4 separate regions of the Homo sapiens genome follow, and regions 2, 3 and 4 are each linked to region 1. The links come from fine-mapping of genetic effects on gene expression. A gene starts in region 1. Each other region holds a variant in brackets. All regions are shown on one strand. Distances are from middle to middle. Region 1 holds the start of DTNB (dystrobrevin beta). Region 2 overlaps ASXL2 (ASXL transcriptional regulator 2). Region 3 overlaps DTNB (dystrobrevin beta). Region 4 overlaps DTNB (dystrobrevin beta).

Region 1 (2,688 bases):
CCACCACGCCCGGCTAATTTTTGTATTTTTAGTAGAGACAGAGTTTCGCCATGTTGGCCAGGCTGGTCTCGAACCCCTGACCTCAAGTGATCCGTCTGCCTCAGCCTCCCAAAGTGCTGGGATTACAGGCGTGAGCCTCCGCGGCAGGCCAGAAAATGCTCATCTTTTGAGGAACCTATTTGTTCCCATTTAACAAAGTTGGTTATCAGCATTTCCTTCACCATAGGAGTTTAAAAATAAAAAGAGGAGAGGAGGAGGAAGAGGGTGTTCTAAAGGCAGGCAGGCAGGCAGGCAGGCAGCAGCAGGAGGTGGCACGATCTGCCTTACCGTAAGGTGCCAAAAAGCAGTGAAAACCATACTCCCAGCATGCAGGCCTGGGGTCGCTTAGCTCTGGAGCTTACAGCCTTCATCATTGACCAATAGCCCCCAAAGGACGTTGCTGTTTTGAGTCTTAAGTAACGTTGAGAATGACCATTTGAACCATTCAAAAAGTCCTTGCTATATTCTAATTTGGCACCATCTCCTGTATTTCACAGTTTGGAAAGAATTCTATAAAAGATGGATAACAGTAAAACACAAAAAAGCTGGTGCTGAGATGGTAAACCTGGCTGCCCCGGCTCCTTTGCCCAAACTGTTTTCCCAGCCCTAATGTCCTCCCTTTTTCCTCCTAGGACTTCTTTTTCTTCCTTCGAGGTTGACCATAAATGCCGCCTCTAGCCCTCTGCGGCGTCCAAGCAGAAGTCGTCTCTAGCTTCTGTGCCAGCATCGCACCGTGGCTTGGCTCTGCACGGGTCATCGGACTTGGTTGTGTACATGGCTGTTTTCCCCGCTAAGTTTGGGGCGCCTCGAGCCCAGGCGCCGTGACCGTGATCGTGCGCCCACAGGCACCTGGTGCAGCGCGGGGCGCACGCCGCGGCTGGGCTAGCTTGCGGAGTTCACGGGGGTCACTCGGGCACAGGCTTGTGACCCAGGCGCGGAGAATGATTCACGGGGTGGCTCTTTGCATTCTTTGTCGGGTAGTCACGTCGGGCCGGGCACCCCGCCGACGGATACCTGCGGATGGAAAGACACCCGGCCCGACGCCAGCGAGCGGGAGAAGCCTGGATGGAGCCAGCTTCCCGCCTGCCCGGAACCCGCCGGCGACCGGTGGGCGGGGCGCGGCCGCGGGGGCGGGGTGGAGGGGGGTTGCTCGGCCGCTCCCGCCCCCTCCCCGCGCGCGGAAGCCACGCCCCCGGCCGCGCGCTCGCGCTGGGCGCGCGCCCGCCCATCCGCCCTCCGCCCTCCGCCCTCGCGCCCTCGCGCCGGGGGCGGGCGCTGCGCGTGCCGGGCGGAGAAGCGGCGCGAGCCGGGCGCTGCGAACGTTCGCCGCGGGGGTGGCTCCGGGGCCTGAGTAGGCGCTGCCGCTGCCTCAGCCGAGGGGGCTGGGCCGGAGCGTGCGGAGGAGTGAGGCCGCAGGAGACCTTCCCGACGACCCCTGCTCCGGCGGGGAAGTGAGCAAGGTGGGGGTCTGCGGCCGCCGCCGGGGCTGTGGGGAGACGAGCTGGGCTGGAGCCTCGCGCCCGCGAGGTGCGGGACGGCAGCTCGCGCTGCGCCGGGACTGGGGACCCGGGAGCCTGCGGGTGCGGCGCTGCAGGAGTCGGGGAGGGCGCGGGGAGCCGGGGCCGCTGCACCGCGCGCGGCTGCGAGGTGGGACGGCGCGGCTAGCCCCGGAGGGACAGGCAGAGGGGATGCGGCGGATCCCGGGCCGGGAGGGGTATCGGGGTCCGGAACGCGCCGGGGCACGGGCGCGAGCGGGGGCCCGGCGCCGGGCTGATGCTGCCCGAGCCCGGCTCGCCTGGAGGCGGCTCTGCGTTAGGTGCTGAAGGGGCGAGTGAGGCAGGTCCTGGCAGAGGGCAGGTGAGGCGGGCAGGCCCTGGCAGAGGGAAGGGTATTTATTTCAGATCACCCCAAATCACTGTTTCCCGAGGCGCCTAATAGCGAACCTGTCCAGGAGGTCACCCTGGACAGGAAAGAAGTGTCCCGAGACGAGGATGCCGGTGACGAATACTTGCCCTTAAATTCCTGTGCCAGGCCTTGGGATTAGGAAGACCTTCCAGCTACCGTAGGTAGAGACCCGTAGTCAGCACTGGGGCCACGAAATAGTATGGAACACCGTCATGTTATTGAGGTGCTGACAGTGTGGCTGTGAAGATATGCACATGAAATACAAAGGAGCGTCGAATTTTATGTCGCATGCCCTATTTACTTTCGGTCTCTTTTGTCTTTTCCCAGTATTGGGAAATTGGAGCCATAAATTGCGTGGTTTTGGGGATAAAGCAGAAAGGTCAAAAGAAGCCTATGGGAGAAATTTGGGAGAGTTTTGAAGGCTCCTACGGGTAACATTTAAAGGGGGCTCTTAGATGGGGAAAAAAGACGTTTGGAAAGAAAGGAAGTTTCCTTCCTTCCCATCTAGAAATAAGCTCCATGACTATTGACTGCTAAATCTTCAGAATGTTGCCTGGCTCACAGCGGTTGAGCCATAAGTGTCTATTGCATGAATGAATGGACAAGCAAGGTTTGGCCACATTTGCCATGGAGCAGTGTCAGTCACTCTAGTGTTAGGGAAGGTTGCTGGATTTCTCCTGTTCCACAAGTTCTCTCTCTCTGCCTCTTTTTTTTTTTTTTTTTTTTTTTTTTTTTTTGCTATGC
Region 2 (2,688 bases), 100 kb before region 1:
AAGCATGCAATGGAATATTATTTTACGATAAAGAATAAAGTATTTATACATATTGAAACATGGATGAGCCTTCAAAAGTAAGCACTTTGTTGAAAAAGTCATTCACAAACGAGCACTAATGTATGATTTCATTATATGAAATATCCCTAAGAGGCAAATTTATAGAGACAAAAAGTAGATTACTGGTTACCTAGGACCACGGACATAGATGGGGTAAAAGATGAGTAACGGTTAACATGTATGGTGTTTTTTGAGGGGTGATGATTGTACAACTTGGTGAATATACTGAAAGCCATTGAATTTTATGCTTTTTTCCCCAACATTTTCAAAATAAATTTAATTTTGTTAGCTTACTAGGGAAAATTAAATCACTAGTCACACAACAAATTGACTCTGAATGGATTGCAAAACCAAAGTTTAAACCTAAATCCTGATGCTTTTAAAAGAAAACAGAGAATAACATCTTTGTGGTCTTAAGATAGAGAATGATTCCTTAAATAAAACAAAAGATATTTAATATAGTGGGGAAATAACAAATGAGATTATTTAAATATATTTTAAGTATTTCTCAGACAGAAAGAGGAGGAGACTGAGAGAGGGTGTATTAGGTTGTTTTCACACTGCTATAAATACCTGAGACTGGGTAATTTATAAAGGAAAAAGGTTTAGTTGACTCATAGTTAGTTCCACATGGCTGGGGAGGCCTCAGGAAACAACAATCATGGCAGAAGGCGAAGGGGAAGCAACCAACTTCACATGGTGGCAGGAGAGAGAAGCGAGAAAGAGCAGGGAAAACTGCCTTTAAAAACCATCAGATCTCATGAGAACTCACTATCACGAGAACAACGTGGGGGAAGCTGCCCCCATGATCCAGTCACCTTCCTACTTCAACAAGCGGGTGATTACAGGTCACTCCGCTGACACGTGGGGATTACAATTCAAGATGAGATTTGGGGCCCAGCGAAGTGGCTCGTGCCTGTAATCCCAGCACTTTGGGAGGCTGAGGTGGGTGGATCACCTGAGGTCAGGAGTTTGAGACCAGCCTGGCCAACATGGTGAAACCCCGTCTCTACTAAAAATACAAAAATTAGCTGGGCGTG[G/A]TGGTGGGCACCTGTAATCCTAGCTACTCAGGAGGCTGAGGCAGGAGAATCACTTGAACCTGAGAAGCAGAGGTTGCAGTGAGCTGAGATTGTGCCATTGCACTCCAGTCTGGGTGACAAGAGCGAAACTCCATCTCAAAAAAACAAAAAAAAGATGAGATTTGAGTGGGGACACAGAGCCAAACCATATCAGAAGACTAACTAAAAAAGGACATCTATCTAGCATACATAAAAAACTACCACAAGTCAACAAGAAAAAGACAGCTATTAATAAAACCACGAGAAGACAGGCAAAATGAAATAACAGTCTTCAAAATAGAGGTTATTCAGTGACTAAAAAAATGTTAACAAGTGTTCAGCTTTCTTAGCAATCTGAGAAAGCCTGATATAAACACAGCAACCAGGAGATTGAAATGAAAATGACAGAGAATACCAAGTGTTGGCAAGGATGTAGAAAACTTATACACTGCTAGTGGCTTCAAAATTTTGTACAAACATTTTGGAAAACTGGCAGTATCACCTAAAACTGAAGAGATGTAAACATAAAACACAATTCCGCTACTACATATATACCCCCAAATCTTTATGTGTTACCAATGCATTTTCTAGAATTTAGATACTAGTACTATTCCTAATATTCCCAGATGAAAAACACTCACATGTACATAAGCAGTGGAATAATTGTGTGATATTTTCACAACAGAATTCAATGCTATTAAATGATTCACAACATGGAAAACTACATATAAATTCAAAACAGCCTACAGAATGTAAAAAGACATGTACAAAAGAGTTCCTGCTGCACAATATTTATATAAAGTATAAAAGAGGTAAAAGTAACCTCTGCTATTAGATGTCAATGTAGTGCTCATCCTTGAAGATTGTGACCGGCTGGGATCACAAAAAGATAGCTGTGGGCTTAAAATATCCTTTTTTAAAAAATTTAAATATAAAAAGCTTCAGTGTGCTACCCACTTGTGATCTGTGTACATATGTTTAAATATTTTAATTTTTTTAACTTTTGTTTTAGGTTCGGGGTACATGTGCAGGTTGTTTGTATAAGTAAATTATATGTCATGGGGGCTTGGTGTACAGAATACTTTGTCACCCAGGAAATAAGCATAGTACCTAATAGGTAGTTTTTTTATCCTCACCCTCCTTCCACCTCCACCCTCAAGTAGGCCTCAAATTTTATACTTTAGGCAAGATGTATAGTATATGAATTATATATATATATATTATTTTTTCTTCTGTGATGGAGTCTCACTGTGTTGCCCAGGCTAGAGTACAGTGGCGTGATCTCAGCTTACTGCAACCTCCGCCTCCCAGGTTCAAGTGATTCTCCTGCCTCAGCCTCCTGAGTAGCTGTGACTACAGGTGTCTGCCACCACACCCAGCTAATTTTTGTATTTTAGTAGAGGCGGGGTTTCACCATGTTGGCCAGGCTGGTCTTGAACTCCTAACCTCAAGTGTTCCACCTGCCTCGGCTCCCTTTGGGATTATAGGTGTGAGCCGCCGTGCCCAGCTGCATAGTATAAATTTTATCTTAAGCTATTTTTTAAAAATTGGTCAGTATCAAAGTATACTG
Region 3 (2,688 bases), 37 kb after region 1:
TAGTATTCCATGGTGTATATGTGCCACATTTTCTTAATCCAGTCTATCATTGATGGGCATTTGAGTTGGTTCCAAGTCTTTGCTGTTGTGAATAGTGCTGCAATAAACATACGTGTGCATGTGTCTTTATAGCAGCCTGATTTATAATCCTTTGGGTATATACCCAGTAATGGGATTGCTGGGTCAAATGGTATTTCTAGTTCTAGATCCTTGAGGAATCGCCACACTGTCTTCCACAATGGTTGAACTAGTTTACAGTCCCACCAGCAGCGTAAAAGTGTTCCTATTTCTCCACATCCTCTCCAGCACCTGTTGTTTCCTGACTTTTTAATGATTGCCATTCTAACTGGCATGAGATGGTATCTCATTGTGGTTTTGATTTGCATTTCTCTCATGGCCAGTGATGATGAGCATTTTTTCATGTGTCTGTTGGCTGCATAAATGTTTTCTTTTGAGAAGTGTCTGTTCATATCCTTCGCCCACTTTTTGATGGGGTTGTTTGATTTTTTCTTGTAAATTTGTTTAAGTTCTTTGTAGATTCTGGATATTAGCCCTTTGTCAGATGGGTAGGTGGCAAAAATTTTCTCCCATTCCGTAGATTGCCTGTTCACTCTGATGGTAGCTTCTTTTGCTGTGCAGAAGCTCTTTAGTTTAATTAGATCCCATTTGTCAATTTTGGATTTTGTTGCCATTGCTTTTGGTGTTTTAGACATGAAGTTCTTGCCCATGCCTGTGTCCTGAATGGTATTGCCTAGGTTTTCTTCTAGGGTTTTTATGGTTTTAGGTCTAACATTTAAGTCTTTAATCCATCTTGAATTAATTTTTGTATAAGGTGTAAGGAAGGGATCCAGTTTCAGCTTTTGACATATGGCTAACCAGTTTTCCCAGTACCATTTATTAAATAGGGAATCCTTTCCCCATTTCTTGTTTTCGTCAGGTTTGTCAAAGATCAGATGGTTGTAGATGTGTGCTATTATTTCTGAGGGCTCTGTTAGACCTGGTTTTGCCATTTATTATAAACAAATAATCTTGGGCAAATCACGTTACAGCTGATAAATTCTACTCTACTTTAAGTCTTACTCACAAATCTTAACTTAAAATTCTCTC[C/T]GAAGAGTTTATCATGCCATCCTAGATCGAAGTGATGTTTCTTTCTCCAGTGGTTTCTCAAAGCATTATTTTTTACATTGTGAGTTGTTACCCATTAATGCTTCATGAAATCATTTTGATGGGCTGTAGCCAGAATTAAAAACATATAATAGGAAAAAAAAGGAAGAAAAATAAAATATTAGAATGCAACTTATGTGGTAAGGCTAAATGTGTTCTGATATCTGGATGTATCTATGTGTTTGTGTGTGTACATGATGATTTAAATATATTTCTGTGATGATTTAAATATATTTATATATCTAGATATATGTATGTGTTTGTGTGTATATGTGTGTATGTGATGATTTAAATATATTTCTGTGCTCGTGGTCAAAAAGTTCGAAAACCACTGCCTTAGAACAACTCTCGTTTTTATAATTCCTGCCATAATTATTCTTGGGAAACAGTAGTCTACGTGTGGAGTGTTGAGAGCCTGACTAGGCTAGTGGCATTAGTAATATAAAGTAAAAGATGCATTGTTCTAAAGGTTTTATTTTGTTACCTTTCACGTAGGATTCTAGAGTTGATCTGAAAAAAATTTTGAGACTGTACAGGATAAGTAGTAGTCAGTTTTCAAGTTTTTCCATATGTATGTTCAGTTGTTCCTTTACTTTTTGTTGAAAGGGTCAATAAACAGAAGAAAATAAACAATTTTCTTCAATGCTGAAGAGTCTTCTCATGCTTATTCATTGAATATGAATATATTCATGAATCTGTACAAGTTTTTCCATATGTATTTTCAGTTGTTCCTTCACTTTTTATTGAAAGGGTCACTAAACAGTCAATAAACAGAAGAAAATAAACAATTTTCTTTACTGCTAAAGAGTCTTCCCATATTCATTCATTGAATATGAACATATTCATGAATCTGTACAAGAATGTTCATGGCAGTGTCCATATATGAGAAGGTCTGCTTTTTGACCCTCTTGTGTTCCCTGGTCTGTTTGTCTATCCTTCTACCAATACCAGACTGTTCTAATACTGCACTTTCTTGTAGCAGTAACCACTATTAGAATTTAGTAAATCTAGATGTCAGGCAAGGCAAGTCTTCCTACTTTGCTCGGCTTTTCTTTTTAAGATTCTCTGGGACAGTCTTGTCTTTTTAACATTCATTTTCATATAAACTTTAGAATCTGCTTGCCAATTTCTACTAAAACCAACAAAACAACTCTCCTGTGTTTTTTTTATTCATTTCTTTTTTCAAGTATAATTTACACACAGTAAAATTCCTCTTTTACTGTACAGTCCTGCAGAGATTTTGATTGGGATTCTGTTGAATCTGTAAATCAAGTTGGGGAGAATTGACATATTGCCAATGTTGAGATTTCCTCCTGTGAACGTGGTATATGGTCATCCCTAGAACTATTTAGGTCTTTAATTTCTTTGTAGAGATGTTGCACATCCTTCATTGGATGTTTTTTATTTTTTAAATTTTTATTTATTTATGTTTTGAATCAGAGTCGCTCTATCGCTCAGGCTGGAGTGCAGTGGCGCAATCTTGGCTCACTGCAACCTCCGCCTCCTAGGTTTGATTCTCCTGCC
Region 4 (2,688 bases), 25 kb after region 1:
TATCATTTAGTATGTTGATTTTAGTATGTCAGTTTTGAATCCAGTACTCTTTCTCAACTCTTATTAGTCTTAATGGTTATAGATTCCTACTTAGGTAGGTAACTATACAATTTTTTTCTTTTTCTTTGAGACTGTGTCTTGCTCTGTCACTCAGGCTGGAGTGCAGTGGTATGATCACGGCTCACTGCAGACTCAACCTCCAGGGCTCAATTGATCCTCCCGCCTCAGCCTTCTGAGTATCTGGGACTACAGGCGTGTGCCAGCAGGCCTGGCTAATTTTCTTGTTTTTCGTAGTGATGGGTTCACACTATGGTGCCCAGGCTGGCTGGTCTCGAACTCCTGGGCTCAAGTGATCCTCCCACCTCTACCTCCCAAAACGCTGGGATTACAGGTATGAACTACCGTGCCTGGCCAGTAACTATACCATTTTTAAAGAAAGACAATTTTGACTCTTCCTTTTGTAATTGTAATCCTTATACCTTTTTCTTGACCTAGTGTACTGGTTAGGGCCGCAGAGGTTATATTGAAAAGTAGGAAGGATGGCCAGGTGTGGTGGCTCACGCCTATAATGCCAGCACTTTCGGAGGCCAAGGCAGGCGGGTCGTGAGATCAGGAGATTGAGACCATCCTGGCTAACATGGTGAAACCCCGTCTCTACTAAAAATACAAAAAAATTAGCTGGGCGTGCTGGCAGGCACCTGTAGTCCCAGCTACTTGGGAGGCTGAGGCAGGAGAATGGCGTGAACCTGGGAGGCGGAGCTTGCAGTGAGCCAAGATCGCGCCACTGCACTCCAGCCTGGGCGACAGAGCGAGACTCCGTCTCAAAAAAAAAAAAAAAAAAAAAAAAAAAAAGGTAGGAAGGATAGCGTCTTGTTTTTGATTTTCATGGGAATATTTCTAATATTTCTATTCTTTCTATATTTCTAATATTTCACTGTTAAGAGTGATGATTGGTACAGGTTAACCAGATAAAGGTGAAAGAACTGATATGTCCTAATTTGCCAGGAATCATTATCATTATTTTCTTAAGTCATAACTGAATATTGAATTTTATCAGATGTTTTCTGCTTCCCTTGAGATGAATGTCTTTCCTCTTTACTCTGTTAATATAGTGCTGGGGCCAGCCATCTTTTTCTTAAAGAGCCAGAAAGTAAATATTTTAGGATTTGCAGGCTGTATGATGAGGTCTTTGTCACACTACTCAACTCTGCCATTGTAGCATAAAAGCAGTCATAATAATTTAATAATTTAAATAGTTTTTTTTTAACCTTAGTTTTCAGAATATTTCCTTTTGGAGCTCTTTTTAAAAAAATAATTGTAACTTTTAGATTCAGGGGGTACATGTGCAGGTTTGTTACATAGTTTGTATTTTTCAACCTTGTGTTACCTTTACTATTATGACTTTATATAATATCCTTAAGCCTTTATGTTTTTAGACAGTAGTTTTTACATTTTCTGTTATGAACACAGCGATGAA[A/G]TTAGCTTATTCTTTCTTTGCTTAATATTTTATCTTGTAGACTCTAAGCATTATGAGAATAAGTATCACATCTGTTTATCATGATGGTGCCTCGATAAATATTTATTAAAAGAAGAATGGAATATATTACATAGAAATAAATGGGTAGTTTATGATTCTTACATGATATAAAATCACCAAGAAAAGTGAAAGGTGACAGGTGAGAAGAGTAATCCTCAACTCTGGTGCCAAAATGAAAGCTCTCCAGTTGATTGTACAAAGTGCTTGATACCAGGCCTCCATGCTCAGAGATTCTGATTTTATTTTGTCTTTTCTAAAGTTTGCCAATTTTATTGGACTGACTTTTGGCTTTATTGGTCCTCTTTGTGTATCTTTGTTCTCTGCCTCATTTGTGCTGTGTATTTTCCTCTTCCTATTTAGGCAATTCTGTTATTTTTCTAACAACTTATGTTGGGTTACTAAGGCCATTTGTTTTCAGCCTTTTTTTTCTTATGTAAGCATTTAAGAATAAACTTTCCTGTGATTTTTTTTTTTGCATCCCAAGTGTTCTGATATTTACTATTTTTCATAATCAGTTCTCTATTTCCTCTAATTTTTATTATTAATTACTTAAAAATATCTTTTTATTGATCAGTTGGTTGGTTGATTGGCTGATTGATAGAGACAGGGTATTGCTCTGTTGCCCAGGCTGGTCTTGAACTCCAAGGCTCAAGCGATCCTCCCACCTCGGCTTCCCAAAGTGCTGGGATTACAAGCGTGGGCCACCGCACCTGGCTGGAGTATCTTTTTAAATTTGAAAGTAAATGTTTTAGTTAAAAAAACCTGTATAGCTTAATTGGGTTTTGGGTCAGGAAATGTGAGAAGATCTAGAATCTTTGAATTTGTTAATTTATGTTTTGTGTTTTTCCAAATATTCCATGAGTACTTGAAAATAATGTGTATGATTTATGCATTATTTAGATCAAGCTTTTTGCATATTTCATTAAAATCTTTTTTGTCCTTGGTGATTTGATTGCTTGATCTTAATCACTGAAAGATGTTAAATATTTCTGCTTTGATCAAGAGTATTAATTTTTTCCCTGTACTTCTGTTAGCTTTTAGAACTTTAATTCTTGGATGCATGTACCTTTAAAATGTTATGTCTATCTAGGAAAGTGAATCCTTTGTCATTGTGTAGTTACCCTCTTTTTCTAGTAATGCTTTTGATGCTT

What was found.
Region 2: its variant is fine-mapped to the expression of DTNB in whole blood (TOPMed, PIP above 0.99).
Region 3: its variant is fine-mapped to the expression of DTNB in whole blood (TOPMed, PIP above 0.99).
Region 4: its variant is fine-mapped to the expression of DTNB in whole blood (INTERVAL, PIP 0.92).

The regions. Positions count from the first base shown.
Region 1 is chr2:25,672,197-25,674,884 of GRCh38, reverse strand. DTNB (dystrobrevin beta) reads left to right here and starts at 1,308. Exons shown (of 21, transcript NM_021907.5): 1 at 1,308-1,499. RefSeq lists silencers at 1,271-1,565, 930-1,859.
Region 2 is chr2:25,773,694-25,776,381 of GRCh38, reverse strand. All of the region lies in intron 5 of ASXL2 (ASXL transcriptional regulator 2), which reads left to right. Among named protein-coding and RNA genes, the nearest start is that of DTNB, 100 kb to the right of the region's middle. The variant G/A (reference allele first, on the strand shown) is at 1,101.
Region 3 is chr2:25,635,334-25,638,021 of GRCh38, reverse strand. The region is part of intron 3 of DTNB (dystrobrevin beta); the gene reads left to right. Among named protein-coding and RNA genes, the nearest start is that of DTNB, 37 kb to the left of the region's middle. The variant C/T (reference allele first, on the strand shown) is at 1,108.
Region 4 is chr2:25,647,158-25,649,845 of GRCh38, reverse strand. The region is part of intron 2 of DTNB (dystrobrevin beta); the gene reads left to right. Among named protein-coding and RNA genes, the nearest start is that of DTNB, 25 kb to the left of the region's middle. The variant A/G (reference allele first, on the strand shown) is at 1,478.